7 linked regions of the Homo sapiens genome follow. The protein of the gene in region 1 purifies or fractionates together with the protein of each later gene. This does not show direct contact. Each region holds a gene or a part of one and is shown in the gene's direction. Other genes may lie near its edges. The genes, in order: MYLK4, USP28, RAP1B, UBLCP1, TRAP1, GPI and OTUD5.

The links.
Region 2: the proteins of MYLK4 (region 1) and USP28 purify together in Homo sapiens (affinity purification with mass spectrometry, with the first as the bait; one large-scale study listed by BioGRID). This does not show direct contact.
Region 3: the proteins of MYLK4 (region 1) and RAP1B purify together in Homo sapiens (affinity purification with mass spectrometry; one large-scale study listed by BioGRID and IntAct). This does not show direct contact.
Region 4: the proteins of MYLK4 (region 1) and UBLCP1 purify together in Homo sapiens (affinity purification with mass spectrometry; one large-scale study listed by BioGRID and IntAct). This does not show direct contact.
Region 5: the proteins of MYLK4 (region 1) and TRAP1 purify together in Homo sapiens (affinity purification with mass spectrometry; one large-scale study listed by BioGRID and IntAct). This does not show direct contact.
Region 6: the proteins of MYLK4 (region 1) and GPI purify together in Homo sapiens (affinity purification with mass spectrometry; one large-scale study listed by BioGRID and IntAct). This does not show direct contact.
Region 7: the proteins of MYLK4 (region 1) and OTUD5 purify together in Homo sapiens (affinity purification with mass spectrometry, with the first as the bait; one large-scale study listed by BioGRID). This does not show direct contact.

What each region holds. Positions count from the first base shown.
Region 1 is NC_000006.12:2,684,713-2,689,002, reverse strand, and holds part of MYLK4 (myosin light chain kinase family member 4), read left to right. Parts: intron 1-46; coding exon 47-152; intron 153-3,426; coding exon 3,427-3,520; intron 3,521-3,597; coding exon 3,598-3,707; intron 3,708-4,290.
Region 2 is NC_000011.10:113,865,394-113,869,683, reverse strand, and holds part of USP28 (ubiquitin carboxyl-terminal hydrolase 28), read left to right. Parts: intron 1-4,290. UniProt on the Homo sapiens protein: Deubiquitinase involved in DNA damage response checkpoint and MYC proto-oncogene stability. Involved in DNA damage induced apoptosis by specifically deubiquitinating proteins of the DNA damage pathway such as CLSPN.
Region 3 is NC_000012.12:68,655,529-68,659,818, forward strand, and holds part of RAP1B (ras-related protein Rap-1b isoform 1 precursor), read left to right. Parts: intron 1-777; coding exon 778-921; intron 922-1,572; coding exon 1,573-1,659; 3' UTR 1,660-1,689; intron 1,690-3,751; 3' UTR 3,752-4,290. UniProt on the Homo sapiens protein: GTP-binding protein that possesses intrinsic GTPase activity. Contributes to the polarizing activity of KRIT1 and CDH5 in the establishment and maintenance of correct endothelial cell polarity and vascular lumen.
Region 4 is NC_000005.10:159,276,370-159,280,659, forward strand, and holds part of UBLCP1 (ubiquitin-like domain-containing CTD phosphatase 1), read left to right. Parts: intron 1-1,868; coding exon 1,869-1,985; intron 1,986-4,290. UniProt on the Homo sapiens protein: Dephosphorylates 26S nuclear proteasomes, thereby decreasing their proteolytic activity. Recruited to the 19S regulatory particle of the 26S proteasome through its interaction with 19S component PSMD2/RPN1.
Region 5 is NC_000016.10:3,675,497-3,679,786, reverse strand, and holds part of TRAP1 (heat shock protein 75 kDa, mitochondrial isoform 1 precursor), read left to right. Parts: coding exon 1-68; exon of another isoform or gene 69-2,128; coding exon 2,129-2,289; exon of another isoform or gene 2,290-3,641; coding exon 3,642-3,751; exon of another isoform or gene 3,752-4,290.
Region 6 is NC_000019.10:34,395,689-34,399,837, forward strand, and holds part of GPI (glucose-6-phosphate isomerase), read left to right. Parts: intron 1-612; coding exon 613-742; intron 743-892; coding exon 893-969; intron 970-3,518; coding exon 3,519-3,647; intron 3,648-3,867; coding exon 3,868-3,943; intron 3,944-4,030; coding exon 4,031-4,097; intron 4,098-4,149. UniProt on the Homo sapiens protein: In the cytoplasm, catalyzes the conversion of glucose-6-phosphate to fructose-6-phosphate, the second step in glycolysis, and the reverse reaction during gluconeogenesis.
Region 7 is NC_000023.11:48,940,282-48,944,571, reverse strand, and holds part of OTUD5 (OTU domain-containing protein 5), read left to right. Parts: intron 1-288; coding exon 289-382; intron 383-4,290. UniProt on the Homo sapiens protein: Deubiquitinating enzyme that functions as a negative regulator of the innate immune system. Has peptidase activity towards 'Lys-48'- and 'Lys-63'-linked polyubiquitin chains. Can also cleave 'Lys-11'-linked ubiquitin chains (in vitro).

The sequences.
Region 1 (4,290 bases):
GTCAGACTTCTTGACAGATTGCCCTTCTGTTTCTCTCACCTTCTAGTTGACATCCCGGCTCCTCCGGCCCCATTTGATCATCGTATTGTGACAGCCAAGCAAGGAGCGGTCAACAGCTTCTATACTGTGAGCAAGACAGAAATCCTAGGAGGGTGAGTAAGGCTGAATGTTAATATTCTCTCAACAAAAGAAGAGAGCGTGCAAATGACTTCGTAAATGTCTGCCTGTCTTGACCTGAGAACTAGAAACATTAGAAACAAACATTTTAAGAAACAGTAACCATTTCTGAAAATTGTCACTGATGCCAGAAAGGTTAATGTGGTGACTAAACTCCACATTTATTATCTGCTTTACTTCCCATGTTGTAATGTCTAAAAGAAAGAAAAACCCATTGTGAGTCACCAGAAGGTTGACCAGCTGTCCAAAGCCATAGTGCAGCCTCCAGGAGACAGAAGATAGAAATGAGTCAACAGCGTGTAGTTTTTGTGGCCTGTATTAGGTCTTTCTGTCATTGCTGCTGGTTTTTCATTTATGTTGTTACTATATTAATTACTATTATTCATTTCAATTGATTACTTTGCTCAGCAAATAACTTATTTTAGGGACATTTAAACACACATTCTCCCTAAAGAAGGAAGATTAAAGGCCTTGCGCGGTGGCTCACGCCTGTAATCCCAGCACTTTGGGAAACTGAGGCGGGCAGATCACTTGAGGTCAGGAGTTCGAGACCATCCTGGCCAACATGGTGAAACCCCGTCTCTATTAAAAATACAAAAATTAGCTGGGCGTGGTGGCGCATGCCTGTAATCCCAGCTACTCGGGAGGCTGAGGCAGGAGAATCGCTTGAACCAGGGAGTTGGAGGCTGCAGTGAGCCGAGATCAGGCCCCTACACTCCAGCCTGGTGACAGAGTAAGACTCTGTCTCAAAAAAAAAGAAAAAAAAAGAAAAGAAAAAAAACCAGAAGGAAAATTAAAGTCCATCAGGGACCCGCTTCCTGCTGGGGGTGGGGAGAGGGTGTTCTTCTTCGTTTACTTCTTTCACAACCCCCCGTGATATCTTGTAACTCAAAGTCTAAATTATAACGTTTGCTGCCATCGGCATGTCTGTGTAAAATAGGAAGAGGAAAGCAGAACATCTGCACGTATACATACAAAATGTACTCACCAACACAAGGAAAGCACGCATCGCTACTGCAGTTCAGGCGTCTGCAAGTGGTCTTCAGGGAGTCCTTGATATTTGTGAAGTCCCTTCCTCCTCTTCCCACTCCGTATTTCTTTGCCCTGTGCCGAATGGAACCACCTGGACTTTCCCTTCCTGATCTGGCTGATCTCATAGAATGCCCCATGAGACTGCGGGGATGGGCTGAGGGAGAAACAGGAATTCCACAGCATGAACTGGCTCCATGGAAGCCTGAGGTATTTGGGCCTTCAGGGACATCAGTGGCAAGCCAGCAACTATTTCTCTAACCGAGAATAGTTATTTGCAGAAGAAGCTTTGAAAGAATTCCCAGGGTTTGTGCTGTTTTTCTGGTCAAGGTTTGTCAATTGCTCCTTTGAAACTTCCTTTCTGTCTGTTTGGGCACCATGGGATCTTCTCTTTGGTACTGCAGTCTAGACCAGCTGCCCGTCAGCTCTCGTTATGGGCTTCACCAAAATTGGCAGCCGTAATTCACTCAGCAAATAAGTGAGAGGAGCATGATCAAATGTGCGTGGATGCCTTCAAAATGCAGACATCACCAAGTGCTGCACCTCCTTTTAAGTGGTAGCAGGTTCAAGATGTAGCAACTTATCTTTTACTTTTGGCAGAAATATTGCAACATGCCAAGGACCACTGGATCCCAAAAACCCTGCCCACAGGGGCAGGCCCCTGAATTTTCCTGGGAGTTCGTCTCCTGCCCTGTGGCCTTGAGGGTATCCATCATCCCTGCTTGCCATGTTCAATGAGCATAAGGTTATCACTGTGTTGAACCAGCATGAATCCTGGGAGTTGGCCTCAACCTTCAGGGCCCTTGCACAATAAATCAGGGGAAAGAGTCAGAAGGTTGAGGGAGCCGGGAAGTCAGACAGTGATGGGCACCACTGCTGGCTCAGGAGGTTCTGCGGCCATTGCTAGTGAAGGGGAGAAACCATTTCCATAACAACCAATTAAGAGGTGGCTGGGGCTGTGTCCGTGTGTTCCCATAGAGACTCTATCTGGAGCAGAGGTTGGAATTGAAGTCACGCCGTGGCTACGTTTATGGTAATCCTGTGTCATTCTCCAAGATTCATCTGCCTCTGTGCTGGGTGTGCAGCCCCACAGTAGGATGCAGCGGCCGCCAGTGCCCCTGCATCTGCCCAGCGTTGCCATGACTTTCATCGCTGAAGTCCTCTGCCTTGTCATAGGGCTTGCCTCGGGTTCACTGTGTTGCTAGGGAAGCTGTTCCTCACTCCCTACTGTGACATCCACCATTGCAGAGCAGGGACACGTGTTCTAGCTTATTTTACTAAATAAGAAATCAAACTAAGCAAATTAAATTTAAAACTGCTCACAAGTGTGCACATCTGTATGTGATTACGTAGGTAAGAAGCTGTCTTGTGTTTATATTCAAGCTCATAGGTGACTTGGCAATATGCAGTCTTGACTATATGGATGTATATGCAGTATTGTTACATATGCAGTTTCCAAAAATAATTTTATATATCTGAAGGTGGGCTCTCTTGTTCATATGCTGGCAAAGCCCAGCTCATAACATTCATATGTATTCAGAAGGATTCTGCATTGTCTGTAAAGGTGGTTCTCAAATGTGAGGGTGCATATGAATCACCCAAGAAATGTGCTGAAATGCAGATTCTGGGGCCTACCCCTGGATTCCTGCCTCAGGAGGTCTGGGGTAGGGCCCAGAATCCTGGATTCTTTTTTTTTTTCTTTCTTTCTTTCTTCTTTTTTTTTTTTTTTGAGATGGATTCTTGCACTGTCGCCCAGGCTGGAGTGCAATGGCGCGATCTCGGCCCACTGCAACCTCCGCCTCCTGGGTTCACGCCGTTCTCCTGCCTCAGCCTCCCGAGTAGCTGGGACTACAGACACATGCCATCACATCTGGCTAATTTTTTGTATTTGTATTTTTAGCAGAGATGGGGTTTCACTATGTTGGCCAGACTGGTCCTGACCTCGTGATCCTCCCGCCTCGGCCTCCCAAAGTGCTGGGATTACAGGTGTGAGCCACCGTGCCCGGCCGAGACCTGCTTTCTTAACAGCTCCCAGGTGATTCTGATGCAAGTGATCCACACACCACATGTTGACAAATACTGCTCTAGAAGTTTACTGAAAGAACTCCTCAGAGGGCTGCTCATCCAGACTCAGCAGGAGAAATACTGGGGCCACTGTGCGCTGTCCACTCGGCAGCTGACCACAGGGCCTCATGCTACGCCGCTTCCTCTTTTTGGCAGAGGGCGTTTCGGCCAGGTTCACAAGTGTGAGGAGACGGCCACAGGTCTGAAGCTGGCAGCCAAAATCATCAAGACCAGAGGCATGAAGGACAAGGTACAGCCTGTGGGAGGTGGTCCCCTCCCTCCCCGCCCCATCTTGACCACACTAATGCACTGTTTCCTGCTTCTCAGGAGGAGGTGAAGAACGAGATCAGCGTCATGAACCAGCTGGACCACGCGAACCTCATCCAGCTGTACGATGCCTTCGAGTCTAAGAACGACATTGTCCTGGTCATGGAGTAGTACGTATCCCCTCCGCCCCCTCCCTGACCTCCCCAAGGGCACTCATGACCGTGACCGTGCCTCAGTAGCTCCGTCCTGCTGTAGCGGGACCAGAACCAAGCTCGCCCCCGCAGACTCTGATTCGCGCGGATCACACAATCACATCAGTTCTAGAAGGGAAACACTTGGGGTTACAAATCTCCATATGGGATTTTATTGCTAAGAAGTAGTGGGACCAAGTAGATCTAGCTTTGTATCTACGCTGTTTGTCAAAAATCAAGCTTAAATATTAGCCAGGGCAACCTGGAGGAAAGTGGTTTTTGAGCTACATCTTACTTTCAACATATTCACTAATACAAAGGTCATGTCAACAACTGGTGATGATTAGGGCTAAGAAGCTTCCATTTAAACTCACCTTTATAAAAACATAAGGACTGGTTAGTTAGAAACCGAGTACAGTCATTACTTGGTATCGGAGAGGGATTGGTCCCAGGATCCCTGCAAATACCAAAACCGGAGGACACTCAAGTTCCTGACATAAAATGGCATAGTCTTTTGCATATAACTTATGCCTATCCCCCCGAGTACTTTAAATAATCTCTA
Region 2 (4,290 bases), on another chromosome or scaffold:
CTTTTCCATACATTTTTATTTACAAAAACCCAGCAAGGTGTGAACTATTACCCTATTACTGATGAGGAAACTGAGATGTCTTGTTTGTTTTTTGAGATAGGGTTTCACTCTGTCACCCAAGCTGGAGTGTGGTGACACCGTCAAGGCTCACTGCAGCCTTGACCACCCAGACCCAAGCAATCCTCAGACACTTGAGTAGCTGGGACCACAGGTATGCACCACCACACCTGGCTACTTTTGTTTTATTTTATTTTTTGAGACGGACCGCAGTCTGTTGCCCAGGATGGAGTACAGTGGCGTGAGATCAGCTCACTGTAACCCCCGCCTTCCGGGTTCTATTGATTCTTCTGCCTCTGCCTCCCAAGTAGCTGGGATTACAGGCACATGCCACCACGCCTAATTTTTGTATTTTTAGTAGAGACGGGGTTTCACCATGTTGGCCAGGCTGGTCTTGAACACCTGACCTCCGGTGATCCGTCTGCCTTGGCCTCCCAAAGTGCTGGGATTATAGGCGTGAGCCACCGAACCCAGCCTGTGGTTAATTTTAAAAGTTTTTTTAGCAATGGGGTCTCTCTGTGTTGCCCAGGCTGGTCTCAAACTTATGAACCAAGTCATCCTGCCTCAGCCTCCAAAAGTGCTGGGATTACAGGCATGAGCCACCGTGCCTGACCTCAGATGTTAGTATGCCTTATAAGGGCCTCATATGAGATTTATTTTATTTATTCCTTTTCTTTCTTTTGTCTTTTTTTTTTTTTTTTGAGACATGGTCTTACTCTGTCACCTAGGCTGGAGTAGTGCAGTGGCTCTATCATGGCTCACTGCAGCCTCAACCTCCTGGGCCCAAGCAATTCTCCTACCTCAGCCTACAGAGTAGCTGGAACTACAGACATGTGCCACCATGCCTAGCTAATATTTTTAGTTTTTGTAGAGATGGGGGGTCTCTTTATGTTGCCCAGGCTGGTTTTGAACTCCCGCGCTCCAGTGATCCTCCCGCCTGAGCCTCCCAAAGTTTTGGGATTACAGGCGTGAACCATGGTACCTATCTCTTTTTTTCTTTATTCGTATGAGATTTTAAACTGAAGTCTGTTTGCTTCTATCTTACAGATGAGAAATGCAGCTTATGACCATGATTGAATTATAAGTAGCAGAGCTGTGACTTCAAGCCATTCTGACTTGAAGCATAACATTTCTCCGACTTTAGTACAAGCCTTTCTAAAACCAAAGTTTCTGACTTACCACTTGACTATGTAGCACTTTAATAATTTTAATAACTTTTCATTGAACCCTCATAGGCACTCTATGAAATAAAATTTAGTATGAGCAGGAAGTAGAATTTGCAAAGTGACACAGCAAGTAAGTGATAAAACCAAAACTATAACACAGGATATCAGTATTTTTACTGTAAACTCTAGAGGAGTTTAGTTGAACAGGCAAGTCCCAGTATTTTTCATTTCTATTGCATTTCTTCATTTTGCTAACAATTTATTTGCAGTACTTCCTTTGATAGTCATACAGGGCTGTCAAAGCTTTTGGTGTACTTCATTTTCCATTCTGGAAACTGATGCTGAGGAAGATTGAGATTTGCCAGGAGGCTGATGTGTGCTGGAGTCTGGGCTGCATGGCACTATTTCCAGCGTCTAGGCTTTCTACGTAAAACAGGGGTCAAAATATCAGACACACAAAACCAAACTAAAGATCTGCCTCAGTAAGTACCAGCTGCATGCTACATGATGGCTGGTAGGCACTTTAACCCTAAGAAGATTTTCTAAACAACATTTTCTTTTTCAATCTTCTTGCCCAAGTTAGTACTTTCTTGTGTCCCCTCCCTCCCTCCCTTCCTCCCTTTCTTCCTCCCTCCCTTCCTCCCTCCCTCCCTCCCCCCTTCCTTCTTTCCTTTTGTGTGGGGATGTGTATACAGGTTTCCTTATTCATTTGTTTTTTCATAGAGTTGGGGTCTAGCTATGTTGCTCAGGCTGGAGTGCAGTGGCTATTCACAGGCATGATCGTGGTGTACTACTGTTTGAAAATCCTGGGCACAAGTGATCATTCTGCCTCAGCCTGCTGCAGAGCTGGAACTACAGGTGTGTGCCACTGCACCCAGGTGATTTTTTTTTTTTCAATTGAGGCAAAATTTATATAACATAAAATTATTTTAAAGTGGGGCTGGGTGAGGTGGCTCACTGAGGTCAGGAATTCAAGACCAGCCTGGCCAACATGGTGAAGCCCCGTCTCTACTAAAAAATATAAAAATTAGCCAGATGTGGTGGTGAGCACCTGTAATTCCAGCTACTTGGGAGGCTGAGGCAGGAGAATCACTTGAACCCGGGAGGCAGCGGTTGCAGTGAGCGGAGATCATGCCACTGCACTCTAGCCTGAGTGACAAGAGTAAAACTCTGTCTCCAAAAAAAAAAAGTTCAAGTGTACAAGTTCAGTGACATTTAATATATTCACAATATTGTGCAATCACCAATTCCGTCTAGTTCTAAAACATTTTCATTACCCTGAAAGAAAACTTTGTAACCATTAAGCAGTCACTCCCTATTCCCCCATGCCCTCCACCCCTGGCAATACCAATCTACTTTCTGTCTCTAGATTTACGTATTAGAGAGATTTCATGTAAATGGATCATGCAATATGTGACCTATTATGTGTGGCATCTGTCGTTTATTGTAATGTTTTTGAGATTTGTTCAAGTTGTAGCATGTATGAGTTTTTCATTTTAATCACTGAGTAATATTCCACTGTATGTATAGATATGTTTTGCCTGTCCATTCTTCCATTGACGGACATTTGAGTTATTTACACCTTTTGGTTATTATGAATAGTTCTGTTATGAATTTTCATATACTTGTATTTGAGTACCTGTTTTCCCTTCTTTTGGGTATATACCTAGAAGGAATTGTTGACTCATATGGTAATTCTATGTTTAACTTCTTGAGGAACTGCCAGACTGTTTTCCAAGGTTGCTGGGGAAGTTTTATATTCCCACCAGCAATACACAAGGGTTCTAGTTTTTCTCTTTTCTCATCAAACACTTGTTATTTTTTGTTTTTGTTAGATAACAGTCATCCTAATGGGTGTGAAGTGGCATCTCATCATGATTTTGATTTGGCCATGTTAATGTTATGGCTAATGTTAAGTGTCTTCATAAACTTATTGACTATTTATATATCTTCTTTGGAGAAATATCTTTTTAAGTTCTTTGTCCATTTTTGAATTGGGTTGTCTCGTTTTTTGGTTGTTGACTTAAAGGGAGTTCAAAGAGAGTTTTTTATATCATCCAGATGCTAGACTCTTACCAGATAAATGATTTAAAAGTATTTTCTCCCATTGTCTTTTCACTTTCTTGATAATTTGTACACTGTGTATTTCTTTTTTCTTTTTTTTTCCCCAAGACAGAGTCTGGCTCTGTCACCTAGGCTGGAGTGCAGTGGTCTGATCTCGGCTCACTGCAACCTCTGCCTCCTGGGTTCAAGTGATTCTCTTGCTTCAGCCTCCCAGGAAGCTGGGATTACAGGCGCGTGCCAACACACCTGGCTAATATTTGTATTTTTAGTGGAGATGGTTTCACCATGTTGGCCAGGCTGGTCTTGAACTCCTGACCTTAGGTGATCCACATTGGCCTCCCGGAGTGCTCGGATTACAGGCATGAGCCACCGTGCCCGGCCAGCACTGTATATTTCTTGTTGGATTTCTTGATGTATGTGTTTATTTCTTGAATTTGTATACCGGTTGTCTTTTCACTTTCTTGATAATGCCCTTTGATGCAGAAAAGTACATCAGCCCACTTCAGTGTCCCAAGTAGCTGGGACTACAGGTACACACCACCATGCCTGGCTCAAAAGTGTTATTATTTTTTTCTTTTGTTGCTTGTGCTTTTGGTGTCATAGCTGAGAATCCATTGACAAATCCAAGGTCATGAAGACTTATCTCTGTGTTCTAAGAATTTTATAGTTTTAGTTATTTATTTAGGTTGTTGATCCATTTTGAGGAATTTTTGTGTATTGTGTGAGGTAGGGGTCCAGTGTGATTCTTCTGCTGTGGATATCCAGTTGTACCAATACCATTTGTTGAAGACATGATTTTTCCCCCATCAAATGGTGTTGGCACTCTGGTTGAAAATCAGTTGACCACAGATACGAGTTTATTTCTGGATTCTCAGTTCTATTCTGTTGGTCTATATATCTGTCCTTATGCCAGTACTACACTGTTATGATAACCGTAGCTTTGGATTAATACTAAGTTTTGATATAAGAAGTGTGAGTCCTCCAACTTTGTTCTTCTTTTCAA
Region 3 (4,290 bases), on another chromosome or scaffold:
GATTGGCTTTTTTTTTTTTTTTTTTGAGACGGAGTCTCACCCTGTCGCCCAGGCTGGAGTGCAATGGCACGATCTCAGCTCACTGCAACCTCTGCCTCCCAAGTTCAAGCAATTCTCCTGTGTCAGCCTCCCAAGTAGCTGGAATTACAGGCGTGTGTCACCATACCCAGCTAATTTTTGTGTTTTTAGTAGAAACAGGGTTTCGCCATGTTGGCCAGGCTGGTCTCCAACTCCTGACCTCAGGTGATCCACCCGCCTCGGCCTCCCAAAGTGCTGGGATTACAGGCGTGAGCCACTGTGCCTGGCCTTGATTGACTTTTTTAATACAAGACTATGAGAAACTAAAAATTCTATTTTGGGAGCCTTCCGTCCATTATGATAAAATTTTAAGGTTTTTTCCCCCCATCTCTCATAACAGGATCATAGCTTGTTTTCTCAAAAGTTTATGTAAAAGTGTCTTATTTATGTCTACATTGACTAGGTTGTGTTCATTTTACTTAACATATGAGAGTTTTCTTTCTCTCTTTTCTTCCCTTTGGAGTTATCGTTTGCATCTCCATGAAAAGAGAAGGCAGTGGAGATAATTGACATCAAAGTTAATACTTATGTTTATGTTACAGATTAAATTGTTAAGGCTGTAAATTTTATTATACATTATTTAATATTTTTTGTGGCATATGAAAAGTAATTCTTAGATTTGACTCTTAGAATTCTTTTGATTTGAATTCATATAGCATATTTACTTATTTATTTTTACTCTCACAAATGTATTTTTAGGTTCCAATGATTCTTGTTGGTAATAAGTGTGACTTGGAAGATGAAAGAGTTGTAGGGAAGGAACAAGGTCAAAATCTAGCAAGACAATGGAACAACTGTGCATTCTTAGAATCTTCTGCAAAATCAAAAATAAATGTTAATGAGGTATGGTCAAATATACTTAAAATGGGTCTTCATTTGAAGTACAACATTGAAGATGAATGGAAAATGTCTTAACCCCAAGTTAATATGTACTCAGGGTAATATGTTGATGTTACAGGCAAAAAAAAAAAACCCTCATGTTAAATGTATCTATGTAGTAAATAAACAATACTATTTCAGTCTCTATTAAATACTTGTACATTGATATTTACCATGAAAAAGGAAGACTGGACAGAAAATACATGGATAGGGAAGACAGATTAAGACTTCAGGTATATGAAGGATGTTATATGAAAAATAGAGTAAAATTCCGAAAAGTATGCATGGTTCTTGAAAGGCTCCAAGTCATGTTGTAGAGCAAAAACTTACAGTTTTTAAAAGGATTTTTTCTTTGTGTGATGGTAAATGTTCTAATTGAACTAAGTTAAGATCTCTGCAGCTCCTTCAACTAAGTATTTTAAGGAGCACAATATTAACACTCCCCAAAAATTTGAGCTTGGCAGTTATAACACCTGATTTTATTCTCATTCCTTAGCTGAACAATTCTGGGCATTAATTTATATCCATGGAAATTTCTGTTTTTTCAATTTACTTTTTTCATTGGGGGGGATAGGTGTTCCTCCTGTAAATTAAAACAAATTATTGTATTTGCAGATCTTTTATGACCTAGTGCGGCAAATTAACAGAAAAACTCCAGTGCCTGGGAAGGCTCGCAAAAAGTCATCATGTCAGCTGCTTTAATATACTAAATGCATTGTAGCTCTGAGCCAGGTATGTTCACTTATCTTTCCTCTAACTTTTAATCACTCAACCTTATTAAGGGCACTCTGTCATGAAAGCAAGTATAGACTTCTTTTTGTTGGTTCTGAAAAATAAATGGTTTATTTTTATAAGATATCCATGAGTTAGTATGCTATCTTATTAATTATTTACTTATCATCATGAGTAAAGTATTTCACATAAGTATTCTTTTTTTGAGATGGAGTTTCACTCTGTCACCCAGGCTGGAGTGCAGTGGCGCAATATCAGCTCCCTGCAACCTCCGCCTCCCAGGTTCAAGCAATGCTTCTGCCTCAGCCTCCCGAGTAGCTGGGATTACAGGCACGTGCCACCACGCCCGGCTAGTTTTTTTGTATTTTTAGTAGAGATGGTGTTTCACCATTGTTGGCCAGGATGGTCTCAATCTCTTGACCTCGTGATCTGCCCACCTCGGCCTCCCAAAGTGCTGAGATTACAGGCGTGAGCCACCACTCCCAGCCAACCCCGTCCCTAATTTAAAACACACACACACACACACACACACACACACACACACACACACACACACGTGCGCGCGTGCGCGTGAGCCACCGCTCCCAGCCAACCGTCCCTAATTTAAAACACACACACACACACACACCCCTGACATGTTCATCATGTGCCAGTCACACACACACACACACCCCTGACATGTTCATCATGTGCCACTTTTTTTTTTTTCCTTCAACTTTTAAGTTCCAGGATACATGTGCAGGATGTGCAGGTTTGTTACATAGGTAAAGGTGTACCATGGGGTTTGCTGCACAGATCTTGCATCGGTACCTGGCACATAGTTAACACTCAACTATTAGCTGCTGCTGTTTGCCAATGATAATGGTTTCCTCTTCAGCTGTCATTAAACTGTTTATTGTTAAACTGTTAATTTATTCTTAAGAACCTTTGACATTCCTGACTCTTATTTCTTCCTATGTTAATTGACTCAGTGCTGCCATAGCACTTTGATTCTGCATCTTTTCAGAGTTTTTATTCCTGCCTTCCATCTAGGGCTTTCTGTTTAGTGGTATATCCTCTCATTCTAATATCCTATAATTCCTGACCACATGCCCATTCTTAGCAGCACACATGTGCTTGAGCTCACACACTTCCATCTGTCCTTTTTAATTTGCAACAGTCTGCCAGGATTTAGAAAACTTGATTGCAAACCTCATTCAGACTCAGAATGAGGACCTAAAGTTCTAGGCATTTGTGAAAATTATTTCAACAGCCACATATGTATTAACAACTCTTCTGGAGCTTGTAACAAGTCTGATCACCAGAAAAATATAATAGGGAACATTTTTTTAGCCGAGGCATGTATGCAGAAAACTATTCAAAGTACATATTTAACAATTCTAAGTTTACTTTTTAAAATCTTTAATTACATGTGATTTTAGTGTAATACCACCTTTTTCTGACATCAGTCTTAATAGAATGTTTAAATATGGAATTAGAAATTATATAACGTGATTGTAAATCTGTAAAACACCATCATGAAATAAATTCTATTTGTCTGCTCTGAACGAGCTTTTTAGCCACTTTCATTGAAAGAGTGAGGAAGAACTTGATTATCTGATACTAGAAACCTTGGTTAGATGTGCATTCTATACTTATGATCTAATTCTAGGAGTACATTACGATTGTGTAAACACAGGATCACCCAGTTTGTTAATATTGCTATCTGACTTTTCAATCCTAATTCTAATAAGGTTGACTTGACTAACAATTTTAATGTGATTTTTTTCCTTTTTAATCCTTGGAAGGTAATGCACAAAAATTTGCACAAAGGTACTTTCCCTTTCTGTTCCTAAGATTTTCATTTAACTGACTTTCAAGAGGGCAGCAGAATAGACTTCATCTTTTTGGAATGAAAAGGTCTGCCGTGAATTGTGGTATGTTGCCACTAATGTAATGCCTAGAACAAGAGCCTAGATTATATTCATTTCTAACACTTTTAAGACTGTTTTCTTAACTGTTTGCTTTTGGGTCTTTACTTTTTCTAGCCCATGTTTTTAATTAATTTTTTTCCTTTTGACAGGTCTGAAGAACTGTTGCCCAATTCAACAGTGCCAGCATTCCAACTTTGTTAAACCTACCAACATCTTAAATGGACTTTCCTGTGGTGGTACCCTTTAAGAGGCGGATGAAAGCTACTATATCAGTTTGCACATTCTAATCACTTTCCAGTATCACAAGAGAGATTTTTACTTATATAATAGTCCTAGAGTTTGCAGCTGGTAAAACCAGAGGCTACATCCAGTATTACTGCTAAGAGACATTCTTCATCCACCAATGTTGTACATGTATGAAAATGGTGTACTGTATACTTTAACATGCCCCATACTTTGTATTGGAGAGTACAATAATGTAAATCCTAAAAGCACCACTATTTTAGCATAATAAAAGAAAGTCCAAAGAGCTCCTATATAGACTACTCCAGATAACTTCGCTTCTTTGATACTTGTAGCTTATTGTAATTTTTTTTAAGAAATTCAAGGTCATTATTATTGTACAAAATAAGCGCTTTGATTAACACAGCTATATAGTTTTTTTAATTTTTAAAAAACCTGTGGAGAC
Region 4 (4,290 bases), on another chromosome or scaffold:
GTATTAAAATTATCAAAACCATAAATAGAATGATTTAAGGGCATGGGGACTTGTTCTATAAAGGAAATACTGCATGTATCGAGAAAAAGATAACTTACTATATACTAAAGTAAAATAATACATTTACAAAATCTTAACATTAAAAATTACTTAGGGAAATGTTAAACATGTTTTATAACAGTGAAAAATTAAAGGAATAAAAATAATCCTCAATATCCAGCAATAGGGCATTGGATATATAAATTACTGCTACCCATATAAGGGACTGTAGCTCGTCATTTGATGTAGTAGGATATGTAATGATTTAGAAATTTTCATGACACATTTAAGTGAAAGAAGTATTTTAGAGAACACTGTTGTAAGCCGTTAGAAAATAGTTCTTAACCTTTGTTTGGTTCAGGATTACCCTTAATTTAACAAAGAACCTGTCAACTCTCTGAGGCTGCTCTTGTTTATAAAAATGCCTGGAGTCAATGTATCAGAATATTGAGTTGTTGCCCTTGGTACTGACTAGATTATTGATTTAAAATTTTCCTTTATGCTTTTCAGTATTTTCATGTTTTTTTTCTGTAGTTAGCAATATTACTTTTCTAATTGAGAGCAAAGTAGTTTGTGTTTTGGGGAACATAGGTGCTTGACCTAATTAACAAATGACAGCACTTTTTAAGAGGATGTAGGATTTTTATTCTGGATGTCATAAAAAATGACCTCTGTTGTCATATTTCTTGAGGCTTTTGTTAGCTAAAAATCCACAAAATATGGCTTATTGTATTAATTCTTATATATTTGTCTTCATTTCGTGGGGGGAGTAGGGGGCGGTTTCTATTTCGGTAGTAAACAAGATCAGTAGCAAAAAAAAATCAGGAAAGTAAAATTTTAGTAAATTAAAATATTTCATTAACATTTTTTGTAATAGGCAAGACAATAGGAAGGAAAAAGCTTTCTCCAAATTAAATTATAGGAGGAAAAAAATTTTTAAGTTACAACTTTTATCACTATTTATTTCTTACCACTTAATCTCATATATTTATTATTACATTCTGTTCTCATAATACCGTAAGACTTCTGTCTTCAGCAAAAGTAATTTTCTAGAAATTTAAAAAATTTTCTGAATGTGTAATACATTTGCATGACTAAAAAAATAGTAAAGTACATAATGAAAAGTCATCTTTCACCTGGTACCTAGCCACAATCAGTGTTATTTCCTGTGTGGTCTTACAGAGACTTTACACAAATACCAACAGGTAAGACTATATAAGAAATTATTTATTTGAAGCTTCAGTTTAAGAATTCAGAAATAAGAGTAAGAATTTGTAAAATATGGTGCTTCCGAAGTTAAGCAATCAAATTCCCTAGAAATTATGCACCTGTGCCACTGAGTTAAAGACAAAACGAGTTTTTCCTCTATAAAATATTCAAATTATTAATTGAAAAAGCCAAATACAGTTTTTTTTTGACTAGGGTGTTCTAGTTTTGAAAGCAGACTCCATGTGACTCCCAAGCTCTGAGAAGGAATGTGTTAACCAAGGAAGTCATGTGACTGCATAGCAGACATCTAAACAATTACTTTGGATTTTTAAAAAATTAAATAATTTATTTATTTTACCCAAAATCTTCACGTTAAAATTATGGAAAGTTTTATAATGGGTTTAGTTCAGTTGGACATGAACAAACCTTTCAGAAGTTTTAATATTGCAAAATGCATTGTGCTTTAAAGTGGGTTGCATTTAATGATTAGCTCACACCTGTCTTACAGGGGGAAAGGAACACTTTGGCATTGTTCTGCAGGGCAGTTTGCAGTATTCCTGCTTTTAAGACAGGATGAAATATTGATAAAATTTGAGTTAAATGTAAACTTTTATTCTAAGGTAAAGCCTCTTGGTGTTATATGGGGAAAGTTTTCGGAGTTTTACAGCAAGAAAAACACCATTATGTTTGATGACATAGGGAGAAATTTTCTAATGAACCCACAGAATGGACTAAAGGTAAGACATACTTTTACTTGTTATGTGCTCATGTAATCTGGGCTGTGTGGTAGAACTTTTGTAGTAAGCACTGTTGAATTTCATATATTTTTGGAAGTACTGTATTCTTATGTCATAGGCGAGAAAAGTTTAAGAATAATTCATATAGAAATTGAACTTTGTCTTTTTTGCATTGATGTCTCCATAGTTAGCTAGTTCATCCAAGTATTTGTTTGTTTATTTATTTATTTATTTTTGAGACGGGATCTCACTCTGTCGCCCAGGCTAGAGTGTGGTGGTGCGATCTCGGCTCGCTGCAATCTCCACCTCCTGGGTTCAAGTGATTCTCCTGCCTCAGCCTCCTGAGTAGCTAGGATTACAGGCACGCACCACCACACCCAGCTAATTTTTGTATTTTTAGTAGAGACAGGGTTTCACCATGTTGACCAGGCTGATCTCAGGCTCCTGTCCTCGTGATCTGCCCACCTCGACCTCCCACAAGTGCTGGGATTACAGGCATGAGCCACTGCGCCCGGCCCAAGTGTTTTATTTTTAATTAGCTCTGTGGGAGCAACATGGGCTTCCCAACATTGACTTTTAGCATCCAAAGTGAAATCATTAGTTATTTTTTTAGGTATACAAATCTTGGCATTTTAAACATTCTGGTTAGCTTGAGAAATGGCAGTAAGGGTACTTTGTTTTTTCTTTTTAAACTGAAACTAAAGACGTTTTTGAAAATTCCTAGACGGCAAGTACAGATCTTAGAATTAGACATTGCCAGAGCTAGAAGGAACCACAGTCATCTCTTGCCTACCTTCTTAACTTTGGAAACAGTCTGAGGTTGAAGAAGTTCCTGACTTGCCCAAGATTGTATATGTAACTGGCTAATGACAGAATTTGGGTTAGACTCTAGTGACTTGGTTCCTAGGTCAGTGACAATCTTAGCATGCAACTGCATGCAGTCTTATGTGACATTTCATCCTGGTAACAGTATAAAATTGGTAAGAGTGAAATTTGAAATTTAAAAGTTTCTGGTACCCATAGTTGATTACATGTTGGCGCAATATGAAAATGGAAAAGATAGCTCTATACTATGGCACTATTGCACATGGAGTCTCCATTCGAAGTGGCAGTCCTGACACTGAGATGTTTTCATTCTCAGTCCTAAACTTTTCTACTAGCTGGGTCCTTGGTAGTTTTAAAAGACAAGAGAGAAAAACTTAAAAGTACATTTTTTAAACCTTTCTTACAGACTGTTGATTTGAGTTTTTGTTTACAATGAGGATATTTTAGGGAAAGAATACTAATCTAGGTAGTGAATTGCCATAAGTATAAAAACTGTTGACTTGGAAGAAAAGTGGTTATGTTGTCCTTAATGGTTTCTGTTTAAGGCTTGGAGAGAAGTGCTTTTCTTAATATGTACTGCACCAGGTAAAGGTACAAAAATGTATTCTTGAGTCTTGAGAAGAAATGTGGTTGATGTAAACCTAATTGTTTGTGAAACGAATGGTTATTACCTGTTCTTGCAAGGAGGTGATCCCATGATGGTCAAGGAATAATTTTGGAGGAGACGTTTAACTTTAAAAAAAAAAATACAATCATTAGTTTCATGTTTGTTTAAAAGAAACTTTGTTTTCCTAACCAACATTTGAGCTCCATTCATCTCTTGATGCAGGGAGAGATGTTATTGTAAATGTCTAGTTCTTTATGTTACTTTACAGTAGGGTTTTTAAAAGACTGTACTCAGTAGACCCACTGAAGGAATTCCTAAAAATACGTATGTCCCCATCCCCTAAATTCTAATTCCAGAGGTAGATTTAGACACTCCACAGGCTGTCCTTGTGTGTCTTTTATTGAAAACCTCTTTTTTATAAAATTAATCTACCCAAGATAACACTTCATGAAAACCTCTTTTAAGGTTAAAGATTAAAGGTTAAGATTAAGATTAAAGATCTGCCCACGTCGGCATAGAAACAGGTGGGGTTTTCTGACAGGGTCTTGCTCTGTCACCCAGGCTGGAGTGCAGTGGCATGATCAGAGCTCATTGCAGCCTCGACTTCCCTTGCTCCAGTGATCCTCACATGTCAGCCTCCCAAGTAACTGGGACTACAGGCGCACGTTACCACACCTGGCTAATTTTTGTATTTTTGGTAGAGACAAGGTTTCGCCATGTTGCCTAGGCTGGTCTCGAGGTCCTGCACTCAAGCGATCCACCTATCTCGGCCTCTCAAAGTGCAGGATTACAGGCATGAGCCACTGCGCCCAGCCCAGAAAGAGTTCTAAAATGGAGAAATATCCTCAAATGCTGTGTTTTGTTATCATGCTT
Region 5 (4,290 bases), on another chromosome or scaffold:
CTGGTATCGGGATGACACAGGAAGAGCTGGTGTCCAACCTGGGGACGATTGCCAGATCGGGGTCAAAGGTAAGCGTGGGGCCCCCACACAGCCTCCCCCTTCCCCTCAGGGTGCAAGGATCCCTCCAGTAGGGGTGGCCCTGGGTGCCAGATTAAGTAAGAACGTTGTCAGTTGCATGCCACGCAGTGGGTACTGTGGGAACACCTCATGACATGACAGCCATCCCTCAGTATCTGGGGGTTGGTCCCTCAGTATCTAGGGGTTGGTTTCAGGACCCCCCTTGGATAGCAAAGTCTGCAGATGCTCCAGTCCCGGATTAAATTGGTGCCGTATATTGTAGACACATCTTCTTGTATGCTTTAGATGGTCTCTAGGTTAGTTATAATACCTGATAGAATGTAAATGCTAGATATAGATATAACATAGTTATGTTTTTTATACTACTTTTTATCATTGTGTTGTTTTTTATTTTTTTTCTGAGTATTTTCGATCCTTGGCTGGTTGAATCTGCAAATGTGGAACCCGTAGATAGGAGGACCAACTGTATTGGCTCACTGCAACCTCTGCCTCCCGGTTCAAGCAACTCTCCTGCCTCAGCCTCCCAAGTAGCTGGGATTACAGGCACGAGCCACCACGCCTGGCCAATTTTTTGTATCTTTAGTAGAGACGGGGTTTCACCATGTTGGCCGGGCTATCCTCCAGCCTCAGCCTCCTGAGGCGTGACTACAGGTGCACGTCACTATGCCCAGACCCACAGAGCAGTTCTGACCAGAACCATCAAACCCACAGACGCCGCATCCCAAGCCCGTTCTCATCACGGCGCTGTGTGAGAGGGGACTGATCCCTCTGACCCTCTCTGCGTCAAGCCCACAAGGCTCAGGGAATCGACTTTGCAGAAAAGTGCTGTGAGGCAGAGCAACACATTTGGACTCAGACCAACAGCCTGGGAACCTCCAGCGGTCGCCCTTTTCCAGCTCTGGGCAAAGCACTTACTTCAGTCTCCTCATCTGTAAGATGAAAACACTAGGTCGGGTGCGGTGGCTCACGCCTGTAACCCCAGTACTTTGGGAGGCCGAGGCAGGTGGATCACGAGGTCAGGAGATGGAGACCATCCTGGCTAACACGGTGAAACCCCGTCTCTACTAAAAATACAAAAATTAGCTGGGCGTGGTGGTGGTACCTGTCATCCCAGCTACTCGGGAGGCTGAGGCGGGAGAATCACTTGAACCCGGGAGGCAGAGGTTGCAGTGAGCTGAGATCACGCCACCGCGCTCCAGCCTGCGCGACAGAGCGACACTCCATCTCAAAAACAACAACAACAACAACAACAAACAAAAAACCCACCCTAACTGTGACTTGACCCCCACGTTACGTCTTTTGTTGTATTTCTCTCGAGGTTGGTCTGCTGTCCTGTGTAGCGGCCACCAGCTGCATGTGGCAGTTTAAATGTAAATGCATTCAAATTAAATAAAAGGGGACATTGTGCTCCTCAGCTGCACAGGCCACATTGCAGGTGCTCGGCAGGCTGTCGCATTGCACCTGGCAGAACGTTCCTGTTGTTGGAGAAAGTTCCATCGGACAACGTGGGCCAGGGCAGTGGGCGTGTGTATTTTACTTGACTTTGGCCTTAGGACCTTTGGCAGTATTATAGTAGAAAAATGAAGTGCTGTGCGGTGCTTACAGACGCATGCGCGTGATTTCTACTCTTTTTCCCACAAAGTGTAGAGTCCAGGAGACTTGAATATGGAAGCCAGTTTGGAGCCTCTCCTCACTCCTGGCCTTCCTATGGAAGGAGCTTATTCAAGGGAAAGAGCTTATTCAAGCTGCTCTTTCCCCACCCCCAGGTGTGACCCACAGGCCTCCACCTGTCTGGGACAGGCAGGACTGTGAGCTTTGGGAATCAAATGGAAAACACACTTGTCCCACTGCTGCCAGCTGGTTGTCCTAGGGCTAATGTGTCACCTCTCTGTGACTTAGCTCTTCACGTGTAGAATGGGGTGGAAAAGTACTCGGTGTGGCTGTTTTCAGGATGAAGGGGTCTTAGCGGTGCTCGCAGAAGAGCCACGGTGTTGGGAGTGTCTGCTCTCTGGAGGGGAGGCTGCCTCACTAACTGGCCTCTGCCCCACAGGCCTTCCTGGATGCTCTGCAGAACCAGGCTGAGGCCAGCAGCAAGATCATCGGCCAGTTTGGAGTGGGTTTCTACTCAGCTTTCATGGTGGCTGACAGAGTGGAGGTCTATTCCCGCTCGGCAGCCCCGGGGAGCCTGGGTTACCAGTGGCTTTCAGATGGGTGAGTGACGAATGTCGCCTGACAGGCAGCTCAAAGCTGAGCTGGAGCCCTTAGCATGGAGTTTGGAAAGGGATGGACTCAGAAAACGTACACAGGCATTTTCTGGGCTTTTTATATGAAATCTGACTCTCCCATTTTGGGGAGTTAGTGACTTTTGTGGCTCCAGGTGGCCTATGGCACCTGTCTGGTCCCATGTGGTTGGTCACCACCACTGCGCTCGGGAAGGCAGGTCCGGCCCGCGCTGAGCTCCTTTCTCAGTGGCTGAGCTGCAGGACTGGCCTGTCGCCTGGTGGACACTATGCAGCCTCCTGTGACCGACCTTCTGCAAGAGCTCATTCTGCTTCCTCCCAGCCCTGGCATTTCCTGGCTTTGTCTCCCCAGCCCACTTCTGCCTCTATAGGGTGAGGAGCCTGCTGGGGGCTTTTTTTTTTTTTTTTTCCTTTGGGACGGAGTTTTACTCTTGTTGCCTAGGCTGGAGTGCAATGGCACAATCTTGGCTCACTGCCACCTCCGCCTCCCAGGTTCAAGCAATTGGCCTGCCTCAGCCTCCTGAGTAGCTGGGACTACAGGCGCATGCCACCACGCCCAGCTAATTTTGTATTTTTAGTAGAGACAGGGTTTCTCCATGTTGGTCAGACTGGTCTCGAACCCCGACCTCAGGTGATCTGCCCGTCTTGGCCTCCCAAAGTGCTGGGATTATAGACGTGAGCCACCACGCCTGGCTCCGAGGGCTTTTTAGCAGGTGAGCCGCTTCCAGCCAGCCGAGGCGTCCTCCCTCCGTGATGCCATTTCTGCTCCACAGTGTGTGCACTGTGCTCAGCTTGACTCCCCACTCTCCCAAAACTAACATTCCTGTTTAATTCCATGGGAGCGGGGCTCAGAGTAAACTTAGGCCAAGGCATCAACATGGCCCTGCCGGGGGATTCCCCCCTCCTGTGCTTCGGAGATGGTTTTCTGCTCTTCTTAGGGGGCGCCTGTCCCCCTGGCCTTTGTTTTTGCCCCTGGGCATCTGGCACCCGATTTGGAGCTGGGCCAGTCCCCCACAGTGCCCCAGGCCTGCTTTTGGGGTAAGCCCAGAAGCTTCTTCGAAGCCCAGGGTCGGTGGAGGACCCCCGCCCCCCCGCCCCCCGCCCGAGGGAACCAGGAGAACTCTGCCGCCTGCGACAGGCTCATCGTTCCTGATGGGCATGTGATGGCCTGAGTGGTGCGCTGGGGTCAGAAATGGGGCATTTGAGGTGTGTTGTGTGTTGTTTGGGCTCTGCCTATGAAACCCTCGGGAACCGCTGGAGTCCCATGCAGGGTATGTCCCAGTGTCACATCCACCTGGCTTTTCCTTTCTTTGCCTGCCTTAGTTCTGGAGTGTTTGAAATCGCCGAAGCTTCGGGAGTTAGAACCGGGACAAAAATCATCATCCACCTGAAATCCGACTGCAAGGAGTTTTCCAGCGAGGCCCGGGTGCGAGGTGAGCGGGAGCCCGGGCCCAGGCTCACTCTGGGATCCATGTGTGGCCTGGAGGCCACCAGGTCAGCAGGCATTTTCCCTGGTTCTACCTGCACGTAGGGTGCACAGGCAGAGCCGTGAAGGGCCGAGCCGCTGCGGGACTGGGAGGGGGGCTGCCCGCCAGGGCTGCGTAGCATCGAGCTCCTGCTGGGACTGGGAGGAAGCTGGCCTGGCTGAGGCGGACCTCCTCCTCCTTCCTCTGCGTGGCCCTTGGCCTTTAGTGCACCTGGGGGTTTGGCGCAGTCCTGTCCCAGGATGTGGGCGTGGCCTTCCCTCTTTGTGTCCTGCTGGACACTCAGGGAGGCCCTGAGTACCCCCAGGAGTCAGCCCAGAAAGCCATGTTCCAGCCACAAGCTGACATTGCAGTCTCGCAGCAGCCGGGGCCTCCACAGCTCTGGTTCTCACGTGGGCTCCGCTGCTGCCCCCGTGAGACTGGGGGGAGGACAGGTGTCCCCACTGTGCCCTGTTTCTGTACCTGTGAAGTGTACACAGCATGGAGGA
Region 6 (4,149 bases), on another chromosome or scaffold:
GTGGCTTAAGCAGGAAAGGTTGGGAGGCTGTGTCCTCACTGGTGTGGGGAGGAAGGGGATCGTGCCTGTGGACACGTGTGCAGGTCCACCTCACGGTGTCAGGGCAGGGTGGGTCTGCCTGGAGCATCTGGGCAGGACTTTGGCATGGTGCAGGAAGGAGCAGGATTTGCGTACAGTGTGTGAAGGATCAAGACTTGCAGGAAGAGGGTTGGGTTTTTTTTCTTTCTTTTCCTTTCTTTTCCTTTTTTTTTTTTTTTCTTTTTTTTTGAGTTGGAGTTTTGCTCTTGTTGCCCAGTCTGGAGTGCAGTGGCATGATCTCGGCTCACCACAACCTCCGCCTCCCGGGTTCAAGCGATTCTCCTGCCTCAGCCTCCCAAGCAGCTGGGATTACAGGCATGCGCCATCACACCTGGCTAATTTTGTATTTTTAGTAGAGACAGGGTTTCTCCATGTTAATCAGGCTGGTCTCAAACTTCCAACCTCAGGTGATCCGCCTGCCTTGGCCTCCCAAAGTGCTGGAATTACAGGCTTGAGCCACTGCGCTCAGCCTCTTTCTTTCTTTTTAAATGTTCTTTCATTTTGCCAAGAACTGGGTTTCTGTTCCTTTTCCAGGGCGACATGGAGTCCAATGGGAAATACATCACCAAATCTGGAACCCGTGTGGACCACCAGACAGGCCCCATTGTGTGGGGGGAGCCAGGGACCAATGGCCAGCATGCTTTTTACCAGCTCATCCACCAAGGTAGGCCCCTGTGGCCTGGGAAGGGTGATGTTGGGGGAGGGAAAGGATCTTCCAGAAGAGATATCTCACTTAGGTCAGTGCCCTCCTCTAGGCCATATGGCTAGCTCCCATGGGCTGGGGTCATGTGGGTGACCACAGTGCCCTTCACAGGCACCAAGATGATACCCTGTGACTTCCTCATCCCGGTCCAGACCCAGCACCCCATACGGAAGGGTCTGCATCACAAGGTAAGAGCCCCCATCTGGCCCCATCTGGGGGGTCTGGCTCACATTGCACCCAGACCTCTGAAAACCTGGTGCATTGGTTGGCAATCACGTTAGTTTTCTATTCCTGCCGTAACAAATGATAACAAACATGGAGGCTTAAAACAACACTCTTCTTTTGTGGGGTGGGGAGGGGGGACAGAGTCTTGCTCTGTCGCCCAGGCTGGAGTGCAGTGGCACGATCTTGGCTCACTGCAACCTTCCCCTCCCGGCCTCAAGTGATTCTTATGCCTCAGCCTCCCAAGTAGCTGGGACTACTGGCACTCACCACCATGGCCAGCTAATTTTTGTAGTTTTGGTAAAGGGGGGGTTTCACTATGTTGGCCAGGCTGGTCTTGAACTCATGACCTCAAGTAATCTACCTGCCTCGGCCTCCCTAAGTGCTGGGATTATAGGCATGAGCCACCTTCCTGGGCTATCTGAAGAGTTTCTGAAGCTCAAATATCCAGCAGGCCCTGATGTGTCTCTGCTTAGAGTCTTGCAGGCTGAAATCAAGGTGTCATCAGGACTGTGTTTCTTTCTGGAGACCTTAGGGGAAAAGCCTTTGACCTGCTTGTCAGGTGGTTGGCAGAATTCATTTCTCTATGGTTGTGGAACTGAAGTCCAGCTTCCTTGCTGTGGGCTGAAGGTCGTTCTCAGATTCTCAGAGGTCACCTGCATCCTCTAGCTTGTGGGCCTCTTCACTGCAGAACCAGCAATGGCAGGTTAAATCCTTCTCTGAAGCTTTGATTCTGTCTTGCCACTTCTGTTGCATCTCTCTGACTTGTTTACCTTCCTCTTCTACATTTTGCTTTTGTTCCCTAAGTGACAGTGTCATGCTGTGTTGTCTAGGCTGGACTTACAGTGGCATGATCACAGTTCACTGTATTCTCAACGTCCCAGGCTCAAGCAGTCTTCCTGCCTCGGCCCCTCAAATAGCTGAGACTTACAGGCACTAACAGGCACTTACAGGCACTTACAGGCACTAACAGCCTGGCTAACTGTTAAACTTTTTGTAGAGGCCAGATTTCACTATGTTGCCTAGGCTGGTCTCCAACTCCTGGGCTCAAGTGATTCTCCTGCCTCGGCCTCCCAAAGTTTTGGGATTACAGGCATGAGCTACCGTGCCTGGCCCTCTTTTACTTTTAAGGGCCAGTGTGATTAGATTGGGGCTACTAGATAATCCAGGAAAATCTCCCCTTTTGTTTATTTTATTTATTTATTTTATTTTAGAGATAGCATGTCACTCTGTTGCTGAGGCTGGAGTGCACTGGCCCAATCATAGCTCACTACAGCCTTGAACTCCTGGGCTCAAGCAATCCTTTTATCTCAGCCTCCTGAGTAGCTGGGACCACAGATGTACAACATGCCTGGCTAAGTTTTTTTTTTTTTTTAAAGAGACAGAGTCTTGCTCTGTTGCCCAGGCTGGGGTGCAGTGGCACAATCAGGCTCTCTGCAGCCTCACCCTCCTGGGCTCAAGCAATCCTCCTACCTCAGCCTCCTGAGTAGCTGGGAACAGGCACACGCCACCACACCCAGCTGATTTTTTTATTTTTATTTTTTGTAGAGATGGAGTCTCAGTATGTTGCCCAAGCTGCCCTCGAACTCCTTCAGAGAATTTACTGTGCTTTGTCTCAGGTGTGCAGAGCAGCACAGGGTTACGGTAGCACAATCTTGGGAGTCAGTGAGCTGGATTGAATTCTGATTGTTCCTGTCTATAGTTCTGTGATCCAGCACTGTGGACTTGTGGAACCCAAGGCTCTACTAGAACAGGGCGATGATGCCTTTCCTCCTTAGGATCTTAGTATTATTTTTTTTTCGAGACACCGTTTCACTTTGTTGCCCCGGCTGGAGTGCAGTAGTGTGACCTTGACTCACTGCAACCTCAGCCTCCTGGGTTCAAGTGATTCTCGTGCTTAAGCCTCCGGAGTAGCTGGAATTACAGTTGCACACCACCACGCCCAGCTACCTTCTTAGGATCTTAAAAGATAGATGTTGGTAAAATTGTGAGCAGGACCCCTAGCAAGTGGTGTGTAGTTCTTTTTTTTTTTTTGAGATGGAGTCTAGGTCTGTCGCCCAGGCTGGAGTGCAGTGGCGTGATCTTGGCTCACTGCACCCTCTGCCTCCCAGGTTCAGGTGATTCTCCTGCCTCAGCCTCCTGCCTGATGACAGGCATGCGCCACCATGCCCAGCTAAATTTTTTTTTGGTATTTTTAGTAGAGACGGGTTTCACCATGTTGGTCAGGCTGGTCTCGAGCTCCTGACCTCGTGGTCCATCCGCCTCGGCCTCCCAAAGTGTCGGGATTACAGGCGTGAGCCACCGCGCCTGGCCACTGGTGTGTAGTTCTTAAAGAGCAGTTATCACTGTTCCCTGCCTTGTGGTGTCATCGGATGTGTCCCCCTCGCTCCAACTGAGCTGTACAGCGAGTGACCCAGGCTGGGACTGACCCCTGCTGAGAAGTACCAGGCGGTCTTGTCCCTCTGCCTGAAGCCCAGACAGTGCTCTCAAGCATAACTGATGTCTCGCTCATCAGATCCTCCTGGCCAACTTCTTGGCCCAGACAGAGGCCCTGATGAGGGGAAAATCGACGGAGGAGGCCCGAAAGGAGCTCCAGGCTGCGGGCAAGAGTCCAGAGGACCTTGAGAGGCTGCTGCCACATAAGGTCAGCACTTCTGCATTTGGCTTTGGGGTGCATGCTGGAGTTGGAGGTGTGAAGCTATGGCACCAGGCAGGGGCTTGGGGCGTGCCTGGCTTGTCCTACAGAATGGGAGGGCCTGTCCTCACAGACCTGCACGTCTCAGCCTCTGGGGCAGGGTGTGCTTCCCTTCAAGGGGTTTAGGGATCAGGACTCTCTTGGAGACATTCCTTGGTGTTTTCTGCAGGTCTTTGAAGGAAATCGCCCAACCAACTCTATTGTGTTCACCAAGCTCACACCATTCATGCTTGGAGCCTTGGTCGGTGAGTGAGTAGGGGAAAGGTCCTGGCTTGGGGTAGGTTGGAATGGGCTTGTGGAGCCCTGATGTGCCCTGTCTGTCACTTCTGCAGCCATGTATGAGCACAAGATCTTCGTTCAGGGCATCATCTGGGACATCAACAGCTTTGACCAGTGGGGGTGAGTTGCTCACTTAGGGGAGGGCCGGGAATACCTTTGTGTCGGCTCAGGG
Region 7 (4,290 bases), on another chromosome or scaffold:
TCCCTGGGCCAGGCCCTGCAAGGTCAACAGAAGCCATAAGGCATATGGGGCCACTGTTCTCAGGGCACCTAGGACCCTTTTGGAAGTAAGTCTTAGTTTCACTCAGCAACTAATTCCCTAAAAGAGTCTCCTACTTCACATGCATGGAGTGGTCAAACAGGGCTGAGAACTTTACCTTGGCCAGCGTCCTCTCTGTCAATGATCTAGGCCTCTCGGGAGCTTGAGGTCGGGGCCCTGGGGAGGGAGTACAGGTTTTCCCTGTTGCTGACCCCCACCTCTTCCCTCCAGCAGGAGCATTGGTTTGAAAAGGCCCTACGAGACAAGAAGGGCTTCATCATCAAGCAGATGAAGGAGGATGGCGCCTGTCTCTTCCGGGCTGTAGGTGAGTCTCTGCCTTAGTCCTTAAGGGCCTAGGGCTGCCCCTAAGCTGTGTCCCAGTTATCAGGAATAGCCCCTGAGACAGGGTTGAGGCAGAGCTAGCTAATCTTTTAGGGACTCTAGGCTCCAGCCTCAAGTTGGTATCTGACCTCTAGCCGTGGGTCTTGAGACATTGTAGTGGTGCAAGATTAATATGCATAATAACAGCAAGAAGAATGATAAAGAAAATAATATCCTTTGGGACACATTGTCAGGTGCTACAGGAAACCTCTTTGATTCCCCTCTAAGCTAGGTGAGTGTAGGGACTACTGTTGCTTCCATTTGTCAGATGAGAAAAGTGGCTCAGAGATGGTGGGTGACTTGTCTGGAGTGAAATAATAAGTGGTAGAGTTGGGATTCAGTGTCTGGGTTAGATTAGTCTGAGGCCCATGCTCTTAACCATAGCATACTGCTGCCACCCTGGGCTGTATGACCCCTAGGTTTATACCCAGATCCCATCTCTGGTGTGTTGCGGGTCTCTGTTCCTCAATCTGTGTGTATGGGGGCTATCAGACTAGATCTTTACAAATTTCTTATATCATAGAATTTTTTTTCAACTTATATAAAAGTAGAGAGAATGATGAACCCTCATGTACCCATCATCCAGCTTCAAAATAGTCAATACGTGGCCAGCCTTGTTTCATCACTATCCCGCCCACTCTTTCTCACTCCCCTGAAAGAAGAGTATTTTTAAAGCAAAACCCCGACATTGGATCATTTCATTCATAAATATTTCTGTATGTTTCTCTGACAGATACAGACTTACTCTCTTCTTTTTAACATAATCAAAATGCCATTACTGCACCTAACAGAATTAATAATGCCTTAATACCATCTGTTATCCAGTCTGAGTTAGATCTTTGAGGCCATTTTGGCTCTGAATCTGTGACCCAACAAGTAGTTGTGAGGTCCTGTGCTAGGGTGAAGGGGAAGCTGGGAATGTGACCTGATCCTCCCTGTGGTTCTCTGATATCTACCAAGGAAAAGTGCCCTCTGATAGGAGCTTTGAGCTGGGAGTCAGAAGACCTACCTTCTAGTTCTGGCCCTGACTCATAACTGCTGTGACACTTGGCCTTGGTCTTCCCGTCTGTGAAATGGTGTTGATTCTCAATGCCTCTTTGAGTTCCTTCTTGGTCTGCTATTCTCTCCGTCTGTGGGTACCCCCCATGTCTACTGGTGGGCTGGGGTGTTTTAGGCTCCATCCCTGGCTGCACAACTGATTCTTGGTATGACCTTAGGCAAGCAGCTCTTCTTTCCTGAGGCTGTTTCCTCATCTGTAAAATGGGGCTAAAAGACCCTAATGCTGTAACGATTTAATGAAGTTGCTTTGGTAAATCCCTTTAGTGCCTGACACATATAGTAGACCCTCATGGAACAGTAGCATTTGTAAAACCCAGATGCCATTTTCACTGGTGCCTCAGAGTCACATGTGTTTGTTGAAAGGGTGGAGTGAATGGTCTCCTCTCTATTCTGCCAAGCAGAAGAGGCTCAGGCAATGGGCTCTATTGGACTGGGAAAAAACTTATCCCTCCTACCCCTCTGGCTCAAGTTTGTGTTTTCCCTGGGATGTTTCCCAGAGGAAGAGCTGGGTTTCGGGGCATCTTGGACAAAAGAAAGGCAAAGAAAGAATAGGTGGGGGCCTGTTAGGTGCTAGGCCCTGTGTTGAGACCTCAGGCTAGATGTGGGGTAAGCAGGGCTTCTGGTGGAGTTAGGATTAGAGAATGCAGCGGGCATCTGAGTCTTGGGCAGTCATTGAGGGTAAGCCTTGGGACTGGCTAGTGAGGACCTGGCTTGTGTAGTAACTCATATCAAGAGCCGTGTGTGTGTGTGTGTGTGTGTGTGTGTGTGTGTGTGTATCTAGCTAGCTGTTCTCTGTGTGTGTGTGTGTGTGTGTGTGTGTGTGTGTGTGTATGTGTGTGTGTATCTAGCTAGCTGTTCTCCCCAAATACCCCCGACCCTTGGGGCTAGCTAGTGAGGACCTGGCTTGTTGTAGTAACTCGTATCAAGAGCAGTATTTGTGTGTGTGTGTGTGTCTATATGTATCTAGCTGTTCTCCCCAAATACTCCCGACCCTTCCTCCCACTGGGGCCTTCAGTAAGGGGCCTCTACTTACAGGAAGAGCTGACCAGGGCAGGTTGAAGGCCTTTCCTTATCGGCACTATGGCTACACATTTCCCCTGACTGGGCTGCCTTTGGCTTTTCTCTGTAAAACCTCAGAAGTCCTCTGGCCTCTCCCCCGAAGTACATGGCCCTTGGTCTCTAGACCTTATCTGGAGGTTTCCTTGGTGCAGAGTGCATAATACATGTGCCTGGGAAGGGGACTTTGTCCCTGGGCTTTTTGCTGCCCCCGTTTCCAGCCTCGCCTGGATGGGGACAGATGGCAGTCAGCTTAGACTGTAGTGTGAAGCCCTACAGGCTGACTTCCTGCCATGTGTTGAATAGTGGAAGGAACGTGGAGCAGAGAGTTGGAGTTGGGCGGGGGCTGCAAACATAGAGGGCACTGTTTCCTTGACCCCTGCTGTGTGCTAGGCATTCAGCTGGGTGCTTCAGGCTCACTGCAAAACTTGGATCATTATCCCATGAGACAGGTGAAAAGATTGAAGCATAGAAAGGGAAATGACATGCTCAGGGCCATTAGCCAGAGCTGGCCTGGGAACCCAGAGGTGTCCAAAGGACACGCATTCTTTTTTTTTTTTTTTTTTTTTTTTTTTTTTTTTTTTTTGAGATGGAGTCTCCCTCTGTCGCCCAGGCTGGAATGTGCAGTGGCGTGATCTCGGCTCACTGCAACCTCTGCCTCCCGGGTTCAAGTGATTCTTCTGCCTCAGCCTCCTGAGTAGCTAGGATTACAGGCGTGCACCACCACACCTGGTTAATTTTTGTGTTTTTAGCAGAGATGGGGTTTCACCATGTTGGTCAGGCTGGTCTCAAACTCCTGACTTTGTGATCCACCCGCTTTGGCCTCCCAAAGTGTTGGGATTATAGGCATGAGCCACCGCATCCGGCCAGGACACATTCTTTTTATGATCCTAGGATCCTTAGCTTCTTAGCTTGGTTGTCAACTGGCTGGATGACCTTGGCTGTGTTCCTTGACTTCTCTGGACCTTACCTCCTCCAAGTAGGAGCACGTGGCCCTCTGTTGTTGGGAGTCTTGAGGCAGGTGGCTTTCTGCCTTCTGTTCCCCTGGATTATCTTCCTATAGGGTCCTACCATTTGCTTTAGAGACTTCTGAGAATTGCCTACTCCCCAGGTAGCTGCCTGCCTGCCATTGGTTCCCCTGAGTTAAGCAATATCCATTGCTTGCGCTCAGTTCTCTCCCACCTCCTCTTATTGGGGATTCATGAGCATCATTGAAGGCTTGGGTGGAGTGGAGGTGGGAACCTGAGCCTCAGAGGTATCCTGTGGCCCACCCTGTCCCTGTTATGCTCAGATAACCTCCTCCTGGAAACATGACTCTGCATCTCTCCCTTGCTCCCTCCCTCCATGTGGCTTTGACTCAGCAGAAACCTCTAACCCTGACCAGGGTCCTGGTGCTAGCTTCTGTGGGCAGAGTGAAGGCCACATGGTTGTTTCTACATGGGCCATGGGGGAGTGGCAAGGGCTGTGCATGTTACCACGATGAGGCCCAGAAACATTAGCTAGGCCCACTCTTCTGGGCCTTTTGGTCTTGGAACATCAGCACTAGGAGGGATGGATCTGAGATCAATTTTGATTGTTTTATAAATGGGGAAACTGAGGCCTCAAGAGAAAGCCAAGACCCTACCCTATCTAGGTCATACAACCAGTGTCAGAACATTGGTATTTGAGGTTGAACCAGGCCACAGAAAGAAGATTCCCACGGGCCATTTCCTGTACACCAGCTTCCTTCAGCCTCTC